2 separate regions of the Homo sapiens genome follow, and region 2 is linked to region 1. Evidence: fine-mapped expression QTL. A gene starts in region 1. The other region holds a variant in brackets. All regions are shown on one strand. Distances are between the middles of the regions. Region 1 holds the start of H3-3A (H3.3 histone A). Region 2 has its middle 15 kb from the start of LINC01703.

What was found. PIP is the estimated chance that this variant, and not a neighbour inherited with it, causes the effect. A credible set is the group of variants that fine-mapping cannot tell apart.
Region 2: its variant is the best candidate, but not a certain one, in a credible set for the expression of H3-3A in cerebellum (GTEx, PIP 0.80).

The regions. Positions count from the first base shown.
Region 1 is chr1:226,059,588-226,064,958 of GRCh38, forward strand. H3-3A (H3.3 histone A) reads left to right here and starts at 3,129. Exons shown (of 4, transcript NM_002107.7): 1 at 3,129-3,224; 2 at 4,742-4,892. The coding sequence starts at 4,765. It overlaps H3-3A-DT (H3-3A divergent transcript), which reads right to left and starts at 2,908. Exons shown (of 2, transcript NR_185887.1): 1 at 1,403-2,908. RefSeq lists silencers at 2,248-3,097, 2,684-2,849, 3,468-3,537 and an enhancer at 4,731-4,800.
Region 2 is chr1:226,095,474-226,100,844 of GRCh38, forward strand. No RefSeq gene overlaps it. Among named protein-coding and RNA genes, the nearest start is that of LINC01703, 15 kb to the left of the region's middle. The variant T/C (reference allele first, on the strand shown) is at 2,946.

The DNA of each region.
Region 1 (5,371 bases):
GTCAGTAATTTCTAAAGATGGGTACAAGGGGTTCATTGTTTTATTCTATTTTTCTACATGATAATTTCCATGTAACTGGATGAGATCACCTAATAAAAAGGTACAGCAAATGATCAGGGACAGGAGAAAAAACAGACAAGACCACCATTACCTCAGAGGTTATATTCTTTGGGGAGGAACTGGACAATAAGCAAGTGAACAAATGATAGATGTAAATCAATGTGATAAAAAGGTGATGTGAAATCAATGTGATAAAGTGTGCATGGAGATAGCATTACAGTGACCAGAAGCATCTCCATGAGGCAGTAATCTTTGCAGTTGATTGACAGGAGCCAAGCAGATATGAATAGCGTTGCTTTTAAAATCCTTTCCATTCTACTTTTCTACTTATAAACAAATCTAAATTCATGGCCATAAGTACTCTATTCTAAGGAAAATATTTTAACTTAAAACCTTTTGCTCCCATCCTCCCCATTTCTTTTTTAACTGCAAATGTTGAGGCCATTATTAGCCCAAGAATTCTATTTTTTTTTTTTTCTGAGATGGAGTCTTACTGTTGCCCAGGCTGAAGTGCAGTGGCAAAATTTCGGCTCACTGCAACCTCCACCTCCCAAATTCAAGCAATCCTCCCACTTCAGCCTCCCAAGTAGCTAGGATTACAGACGTGTGCCACCATGACGGCTAATTTTTATTTTTAGTAGAGACAGGGTTTCTCCAGGTTGGCCAGGTTGGTCTCAAACTCCTGATCTCAAGTGATCCACCCACCTCGGCCTCCCAAAGCGCTGGGATTACAGATGTGAGCCATTGTGCTGGGCCTGAGTTCTAGTAAAGCCAATTCAGGACTGACCCGTAGGGCCCTGTGAGAATCCCTTCTTGCTCTGGCACCTCTCCTTCCCCATTATCTAGACTCTACAGTTCACCTCTCTCATTAGCTATAGTTTTTGCCAATCTTGGGGCTCCAAAGTCCCTCTTTCTTTACCCCCTCCTGGTGCTACTTCCCTGTGCAAAGCAGTGCTTCCAGAGATCATAAGCCCCATGAGGGCAGGAACACTGCTTGTGTTATTCACTGCTGCATTCCCAGCACCCCTGAATTGTGCTGAGCAGAGTTGGCACTCAATAAATATTCATTCAGTGAGAAAACTTCCTGAAGCCACTAGGAGGGTAACCAGTCACCTCTCCAGGTGCTTAAATACTTGAACCTACTAGAAAGAATTTGTGGCCTAACTTCATAGAGATAAATATTATTATTCCCATTTCACAAATGGACAGACAGCTGAGTTAGTTCAAATCATCTAAGATCATAATTACTCTACCTAAAATGGTCTGACCCTTGGTTAGAAATATTTTTTAAAGCCAAGAAGTAGAAGCTATTGAAAAATCCAGCATACAAAGAAAACATTACCCATGTCATTTAACATTTCTTGAAGATATGATGCATTTAACTAATGCAGAACAGCCTTCCTGGATAAATCCAACAATAAATATTTCGGTTTCCTGAAAACAAAACAAAAAACAAGCAAAATAACTCATCTTGGCTTGAATTATAGGAAATTCTTTGCTGGCAGCTCGGTCCAAGCTGATTGCATATGTGCTTTTAGGATAGGATTAGAGATTGCATGTGTTCTGCACAGCAACCATGGACACTTAACATTCATGAAATAATAATGAAACGGGAGGCCTGGATTTTTGTCTGTTTGTTTCTCCTAGGTCTCTTCCTCACTTAAGTGACCTTGGACAAATCCATTTCTTCCCTCGTATCTGATTTCCATGTATCTGTTTCGGGATAATGTTTATCACTAAGCCGCTTTGTGAGATCTTCAGATTACAAATAATTACTGCCCTTCATTTATGAAATTTTCCTCCTTCACTACCCTACGGGATATTTGCATGACCCTTCCATTGAAAACCTTTACACACAGTTGTGAAGCGTCAATACCATCTAGGGACGGTTCAGAGGTTCCAAAGCCAATCAACTGACAAGTCGTGAGGATAACTTGGGCCATGAAAAGTCCGTTTCCTATGCTACTGAGAATTGGAAAACAGGTATATGTACTAATTCCCAAACCACGTTTGCCTTCTTTCTGCCGTTTTCAGCCTCTTCTAAACTATGCAGAAGCTGCGGACATTTGACTATCTATATTCGGCAATTCCTTTCCAAAGCAATCCTACCGAAAACAGATCACACGGCCCCCACGGGCGGGCAGGACAAGCCACCAGGCCCTGGTGCAGGAGCTGCGCGCTCCACACATTGTTTAGAGGCCGACGCGACACAGCCATCTTGCGTCGGGGGCCCGGGCCCGGGAGGAGAGCGAGCCCCGTCCCCTGATCCCGGAGGCCAACACCGGCGAGGGGCTGCCCTGCACGCAGGCGGCCGGCCCAGGAGTCTTAGCGGATCAAGTTGTCTACGGCGGACTCGGGCCGGTCCCGCAGGACCCGGCCGCACTTGGCCGAGCGCGCAGGCGGGAAGGAGGCCGTCGGTCCGCCCCTCCCGCTGCCGCAGCGGCCAGGTCCGACAGCGGGCGCGGGACGCTGGATTCCTATTTGCCAGCTTCCTGCTGGGGAGCGTTTTCCAATGGGGCGCGGCGACCCGGCCGACCGCGTCCTCCTCCCCCACTGCCGCCCGGGTCTCCTCGGGGGCGCGCGCCGGGGCCCGCGCGGGGGCAGCCCCTCCCTCCCCTCCCCGCCGCGGCCCGAGACGCCCGCAGGCCGGGCGTTCACCCGCCGCGCCTCCGCCCGCCTTCCCCTCCCCCCACTTCCCTCCGGGCGCCCCAAACCCGGGCTTCGGGGGTTCGACGCCGTGCGCACACGGAGCGGGATGGGAGTGCAGGGCCGGGGGCGGGGGCTGGCCGGGTGCGGGCGGCAGTCTCGGCGGGAGCCGGCGGCCCCTCAGCGTGTCTTTTGTGTTTGTACACACACGGCGCGAGGCGGCCTGGAGGAGGGAGCGGGCGGCGCGCGGGGGAGGGGCGAGCGCGCGCCAGCGAACGGGCGCGCGGGGGGAAGGGCGGGGGCGGGGCGCGAGAGGAGCTATGGGGGCGGGGCCGAGCCTTCCCTCCATTGTGTGTGATTGGCTGGCGCGCGGCGCGGGGGCGGGGCGGCGTGTGTTGGGGGATAGCCTCGGTGTCAGCCATCTTTCAATTGTGTTCGCAGCCGCCGCCGCGCCGCCGTCGCTCTCCAACGCCAGCGCCGCCTCTCGCTCGCCGAGCTCCAGCCGAAGGAGAAGGGGGGTAAGTTTCCCCGTCTGCCCGCTTCCCCGGAACCGAGCCCCGCTTGCCGTCAGCCCCGAGCCGGGCCCTGGCGGTGCCGGGAGGGGACCCATAGCCCCTCCGGCTTAGCCCACAAACTTTTTGGCCCAGAAATGGAGGTGAGGAGCGAGTTTCCCTGTTCCCTCTGGCGGCGGCGGCTCCCCCGTCTCTCGCCGCCTCAGCCCAACAGCAGCAACCGCCGCGGCGCCGAGCCTGCTCTCCCTCCTCCTCCCCGCGCCCCTGGCTCCTCTTTCTTCGGTGAAATCCCGCCCGCCGCCCCTTCCCCGGACCCCAAACCTTCACCATGACCCGCGCGGGCCTCTTAACTACCGCCCCCGGGCCCCAGCCCCCAGTTTTCGAGCGGGAAAGGGGTGGAAATCGCCGCCGCTTCGCACCCTGGGGTAACTCGCTTTTTGCTGCCTCCCCACAGTTGTTGCTAAGCTTCACCATCTTGTCTCTCTTCTCTGGTCACCGACCATATTTTTTCCCCCGTTTCTCTCTTCCCCATTTCAAAAAAGCAAGAATTTTTAAAAGAGGGACGTTTTTTTCCCTTTTTTGGAGAGGCGGAAACTTGATGCATTTGAAATGCAAAAAAAACTTTTGCATTTTGGAGGGCGGCACGTGGCAGGGGATAGGGGTATTTTCGAGCGATTTGGTGTTTTGTCTCTTTGGAACGGAATCGGATACGTTTTGCGATTGTTTCCATTTTGTTCTGGTCGGGGAGCCGAGTTGGTTCCTGCTCGAGGCGCTGGGAGCGAGGCGGGCAGGTTGGGGGACCCTGTGCCGAGGGACCCGAAGGAGGCAAAACCAAAAGTTTATGTGGTGCTTGGGGTGGACCGGTCGGCGGATGTCGTGCGTTAATTAAAGCCTGGGTGCGGGGCACTTTTTATTTCACTGCGAAGCCTGTGAGGACTGGACGCGAGGACGGGGCTTTGTAGAATGCTCGCTGGTGGTAGCTGTTGTTCCTCTCTTGTTTTTTCGAGACGCCTTTTTGTCAACATAACTGTAAAGATGCAAAACCAAGAATATTTTCAGATATTTACAGCAATCCATCAACAGTCAGACGAAGGGGGGGCAGCCAAAGTGGGGGGGAGTAAGACCTTTTTTTTGCTGTAATTTGACTCGACCTTCCAGTGGTTTGTGCCTTTTTTCTTTTGACTTGTTTGTGGATGGAATGTTTACAGACATTTCTAATTACTGCTTTAATTAAATAAATTGGATCAAAGGCCGTTCGAGGTATTTTTGTTTTGCCGTTTGTCGCTCAGAATTGGCATTTTGAGAGGTGATTGATACTGCTAACAATTTTCTAGTACTCTAGTTTGTTTCAAGAAGAGATTTTGGGTAGACGTAATCTTCACCCTTTCAAATTATATAACAATACGAACATTATTTTTTATACTGATCATAATTTCCAGATTTGGGGAGGGGGTGATCGTGGCAGGAAAAGTTGTATGTTTGGTAGTTGCATATGGTGATTTTTGATTTTTCAATGCTGGTAGGTAAGTAAGGAGGTCTCTGTACCATGGCTCGTACAAAGCAGACTGCCCGCAAATCGACCGGTGGTAAAGCACCCAGGAAGCAACTGGCTACAAAAGCCGCTCGCAAGAGTGCGCCCTCTACTGGAGGGGTGAAGAAACCTCATCGTTACAGGTATTAAAAAACAGGAAAAAAATGGGACAAAGTCTCTCTTGTATGTATCCACATAATTTAACAAAAAGATGGATAACAGGAAAACTTTTTGCTTTAGAGAAACTTTTTTTTTTCATTTGAACACTTAACTACTGCTTAAATAAATGTACTGTATGATCATTTATATATAAAGTTAAGTATTAGGTTTTATTGAAAACGTTTAACTTTGAAGCCATAATCTTACCTGGAGGTCTAAGGAGACCTCGTATATCACTGATAATGTTAATGGGATATATTGACATTTTAGTTAACTATTAGTAATTCTTTAAAAATAGTTAAGTGTTGCTTTCTTGAATACACTTTTGAGGTTATCTTTCCTAGTTTTTGGCAAAATAATAATATAATCGAGATTGGGTGTTTTATAAAGTTCCTACCCCCTCATTTACTTGATTAGCTTATTTCCTTCTGTATTAGCTCTTTTGATTGTGAACTACCTGAGC
Region 2 (5,371 bases), 36 kb after region 1:
CAGAGAGGCAGCAGGGACTGTGGGCAGGGACCTCCAGGCCATAAGGAGCTGGAGGGAGTCCTAGAGGGTGGAGGGAGCGAAAGCAGGCCAGAGAGGCAAAGGGGCAGGAGACATGTGAGGGCATTCTAGGTGTGGGGAATGGCTTATGCCACTGTCCAGGTGCATGAACCTATCAGGGAGTTGGGGAAGACAAAACTCTTGGTAGTGGCTGTAGCAGAGCAATGGTGAAGGAGCCAGTCTGCCGCAGCCACTCTTCAGGACTTTGCTTTCCTGGGGCCAGGTTGCAAACAACCTTGAAGCTTGACCAGGGTATGTGGACCTTATCCTAATTTTTATGGGTTTTGTTTGTTTGTTTAATCAGAGACAGGGTCTCTCTATGTTGCCCTGTTTAGTTTCCAACTCCTAGACTCAAGAGTCCTCCTGCCTCAGCTCCCCAAAGTGCTGGGATTACAGGCATGAGCAGCCTGGCCTATTGGAGGTGGTGTGTGTTTGTTTGTTTGTTTGAGACAGAGTCTAGCTCTGTCGTCCAGGCTGGAGTGCAATGGCACCCTCTCAGCTCACTGCAACCTCTGCCTCCTGGGTTCAAGCAATTCTCCTGCCTCAGCCTCCTGAGTAGCTGGGACTACAGGTGCACACCACCACGCCCAGCTAATTTTTGTATTTTTAGTGGAGATGAGGTTTCATCATGTTGGCCAGGCTGGTCTTGAGCTCCTGACCTCAAGTGATCCGCTCGCCCCCGCCGCGGCCTCCCAAAGTGCTGGGATTACAGGTATGAGCCACTTTGCTTGGCCCCTATCCTAGGTTTTTAAGTAGGGAAGTAACATGATCAAGCTTGTCTTGCTCAGAGCTCCCCTCGGAGGAAAGGCTGGAGGAGGTGACTGAAGCTGTTGCCTTGAGGACCCAGTCTGGTCTCCAGCCTCAGTGCTTCAAGGACAGGGTCCTTGCTGTATAGAGCTACTGGTGATTCAGACACAATCCACCTTGTGTTGCCTGCGGCTGACCTCCACTGGCAGGTGCCCTCTCCCTCTACAGTGGAGGTGTATGCGCTCAGGCAATGCAGGCTCAGCCCAGCTGTGGTCCCCCTGGAGGCAGTGAGCCCTTTGAGAGGTCTGAGCCAGGGGTGGTGGTTCACACCTGTCATCCCAGCAGTTTGGAAGGCTGAGGCTGGAGGATTGCTTGAGGCCAGAAGTTTGAGACCAGCCTAGGGAACATAGCAAACCTATCTCTACAAAAAAAAAAAAAAAAAAAATTAGTCAGATGTGGTGGTGTGTTCCTGTAGTCCTACCTACTCAGGAGGCGGAGGTGGGAGGATTACTTGAGCCCAGGAGTCCGAGGCTGCAGTAAGCTAAGGTTGCATCATTGCACTCCAGCCTGGGCAACACAGCAAGACCCTGTCTCTAAGTAAATAAATAAATACATTTTTTTAAATTAAAAAAAAAAGAGAGGGAAATCCAAGCCAAATCCTCCAGGGGTCAAAGTCCTGCTGTCCTCCCCTGCTCTGCTCAACCCCAGCCTACCTCTGTGTGGGGTGGGGGTGTCGGGGGAACCCATGCCGCTGAGCAAGGAGCTCCCTCAGCTGGTCTATTAGTCAGGTGAGGCTAGGTTCTACCGCAGTAAATCAGCCCCAAACTTCAATGACTTCACACAACAAAGTATATTTCTCAATCATGTTATACGCTCAGTGCAGTGGAGAAAAGAGGATGGAAGGGCAGGGCTCTGTTCCACCTAGGGTCTCAGGGATCCAGGTTGCTAGAAGAGCCACCATCTAGACAATCACCAGTCACCATGGCATGGGAAGAGAGGGCATGGAGAACTTACACCTTTTGATCCAGTAGTGACACATGTAAACCAAAAAGTGACTGAGGCAGGTCTCAATTGATTAGAAGCTTATTTAACCATGATTGAGGATGCAAAAAAACCAACAAAACAAAAACAAGTCACAGAAGCATCTACAACCTGTGATTTTTCCAAGGAAGGTTTCAGGAACTTCAGTATTTGAAGGGGAAAGAGCAAGCAGAAGAGGAAAAAAAAAAAAAAAAAAACGGGGTAAGGGGGCTGGGCGTGGTGGCTCACGCCTGTAATCCCAGCACTTTGGGAGATCCAGGCAGGTGGAGCACCTGAGGCAAGGAGTTCGAGACCAGCCTGGCCAACATGGTGCAAACCTGTCTCTACTACAAATACAAAAATTAGCCAGGCATGGTGATGCATGCCTGTAATCCCAGCTATTTGTGAGGCTGAGGCATGAGAATCACTTGAACCCAGGAGGTGGAGGTTGCAGTAAGCCGAGATCGCTCCACTGCGCTCCTAGAAGGGTAGACAATGAGGCAAATGGATACAATCTTAGGTTCCTATTAGCCTTAGTGAATGTACCTTTTACATGTGAAACAGAGGACCAAGTCAATTATGCAAAGTCTTGGGGTAGGAGGAGGGATGATTTCTAGTCTTGTCCTTATCCTGTCCCTGTGAAGATAAGCTGATAATTGACATTGTCAGGGTGAAGTTTAACAGAACTTGATTTTAGAACTAGCTTATAGGGGAATGTGTATTCTGAAAGGTTTAGGGGCCCACAGGGAATTTCCTTGTGAACAATTTGGGAAATATGTAGCCTTCTATTGTTGTGGGAACCTGGCTTACGAATGAGGCTATGACACAGGATTGTGAAACTACCGCTATCTGTTTGGGAACAAAAGGAAGGCAGTTTTTCTGTGACTCAGTTCCCAAACTTAACTTTCCCTTTGGCATAGTGAGTTTGGGGTCCCAAGACTCTGTTTGCTTTCACATATAGGTCACACTTCCGATTATAGCCAATTGGCCAGCACTAGCCCACTGGCCAGCAGCCAGGGTTCTGGAAAGGTAGAAGAGCCCACGGGTACTCAGTGGGCAGTGACTGTCTGTTCAGCCAAGTGCAAGCCAGGTTGGAGAGCAGGTTGGCTCCTGCCTGGACA[T/C]AGGAAGATGGATGACAAAGGATGCCCAGAAAGGTGTGGGCTCCTTCCCAGTTACCTCCAGCCTCCATCTGCTCTCTGATTCCTAGAGCACAGCTCAGAGAACATCAGTTCCACTTTCCCCCAGCTTACCCAAAATATAGCCCCTACCCATTCTGGCCTCAGCACAACGCTGCCTGATTTCTCTCCACTCTTTCTCCCCTCCCCTCCCCCTGCCCTCCCCATCTCCCCATACCTCCCAGCTCCAACCACACGAGGCTCCCCCTGCTCTGTAATATATACTTTATTTCCTTTACCCCTCCGGGAATGTTCTACCCCTCTCTGCTCACTAGAATCCCACCCATTCTTCCAAATCTAGCTCACTTATCACCTGGTCCATGAAGATTCTTCCCACAGAATATCCTCTGCTTCCTCTCACCTCACAGTCTCCTACAGATGAAATGCCCAGCCCACAGCTCCCCACTGAAGGGGCAGCCCCAGGCAGACCATGTGATCCCATTCCCTATCCCAGCCACAGTGAGGTGGATCCACACGGCCACTCTGTTGCCTGGGCAGTGGCCTATGAGGTGGGGCCTGGTGGGAAGGATGAGATGAGCTAGGTCTATCAAACTCTCTTTAGATAACTTTTTTTTTCTGGAGATAGGGTTTTGCTGTATCACCCAAGTTGGAGTGCTGTAGTGCAGTCAGGGCTCACTGCAGCCTTGAACTCCTGGGCTCAGGCAATCCTACCACTTCAGCCTCCAAAGAAGCTGGAACTATAGGCATGTGCTACCATGCCTGGCTAATTTTTTTAACTTTTTATAGAGACGGCGGGATCTTGCTTATGTTGCCCAGGCTGGTCTGGAACTCCTGGCCTCAAGCAACCTTCCCACCCCAGACTCCCAAAGTGCTGGGATTACAAGTGTAAGCCACTGTGCCAGCCAGCCAGTGTTTTCTTGCTGTGTCCTCAAAGAGAGAAAGGAACTAGTGAGCTCTCTGGGCCTTTCTTATAAGGTCACTAATCCCAGTCATGAGGACTTCACCCTCATCTCATCACTTCTCAAAGGGCCCACCTCATAATACCATCATTTGGGGATTAATCACCTCCTTTGAGAATGAAAGTTAAAAAAAAATTGGGGGTTAAAATTTCCACATACAAGCCAGTCATGGTGGCTCATGCCTATAACCCCAGCACTTTGGGAGGTGAGGTGGGAGGATTGCTTAAGCCCAGGGGTTCCAGACCAGCCTGGGCAACACAGGGAAACCCCATCTCTATAAAAAGTTTTAAAACTAGCCAGCTGTGGTGGCATGCCTGCAGTCCCAGCTACTTGTGAGGCTGAGGTGGGAGGATCACTTGAGTCTGAGAGGTTGAGGCTACAATAAGCCATGACCACATCACTGCACTCCAGCTTGGGTGACAGAGTGAAACCCCATCTCAAAGGAAAAAAAAATTTTTTCAACATATGGATTTGTAGGGGTGGCACAAACATTTAGACCATAGCACATCCAACTCTGTAATTCCTACCTCTGGGCTTTTTATGTAAGAGACAGACACACATAACTGGATTCAAGTTGACTTCATTTCACATAAGCAGTGTCTTCTTAAAGAACAACTTGTCAAATACAATTTTCATTCACTGACTTCCACACTGAGGGAGGATACTGGGTCCTAAACAATGTTTTCCTAAAATATTCTGTGCAAACCAGATTTTAACCAATGTAGTCATTGTTCTCCACTGACTTACTTTATGAATATTAATGATGACTTTTATATTCAGCGTTCACTTCGTGGTGACACCTAGCTAGTGTTTAGTTTTTCAAAAATTTCACTCCTTGGACCATTGGGTAATAACCAGCAAACAACAGGTAAGAGTCCCAAACTGCTGCTTGAAAGAGAAAAATCCCTTTGGAAGACCACGGTAATAACTACTACTAATGTGTGGGGGTTTTGTTTGTTTTTTGTTTTTGTTTTTGTTTTTGTTTTCAGAGGGAGTCTCGCTCTGTCGCCCAGGCTAGAGTGCAGTGGCACCATTTCGGCTCATTGCAACCTCCACCTCCCGGGTTCAAGCGACCCCAGACTCCCGAGTGGCTGCGATTACAAGCACCCGCCACCGCGCCCGGCTGCACTCTAGCCTGGGCAACAGTGCAAGAGTCCGTCTCAAAAAAAAAAAAAAAAGAGTAATAGACTGTATTTCCCGAAGTATATTCATGGCCTTGGATGTTGTTAACAAGCATTAAGATTTTAAAAGGGCCCGAGGTCAAACCATTTAGGAAGAATGCCTAATTCCCACAGTTAAGGCTCGGTGGGTGGGCGCATGCGCACAGGATCCTCGCCGTCAGGCACCTGCGGAACACACTTGGAAATCGCTTTTTCCGGAGGCCCAATTTCATTTCATTATACACCACACCACACTGTGCTGGGCTGTGGAGGAAGAACGGGAAGCAGTTTT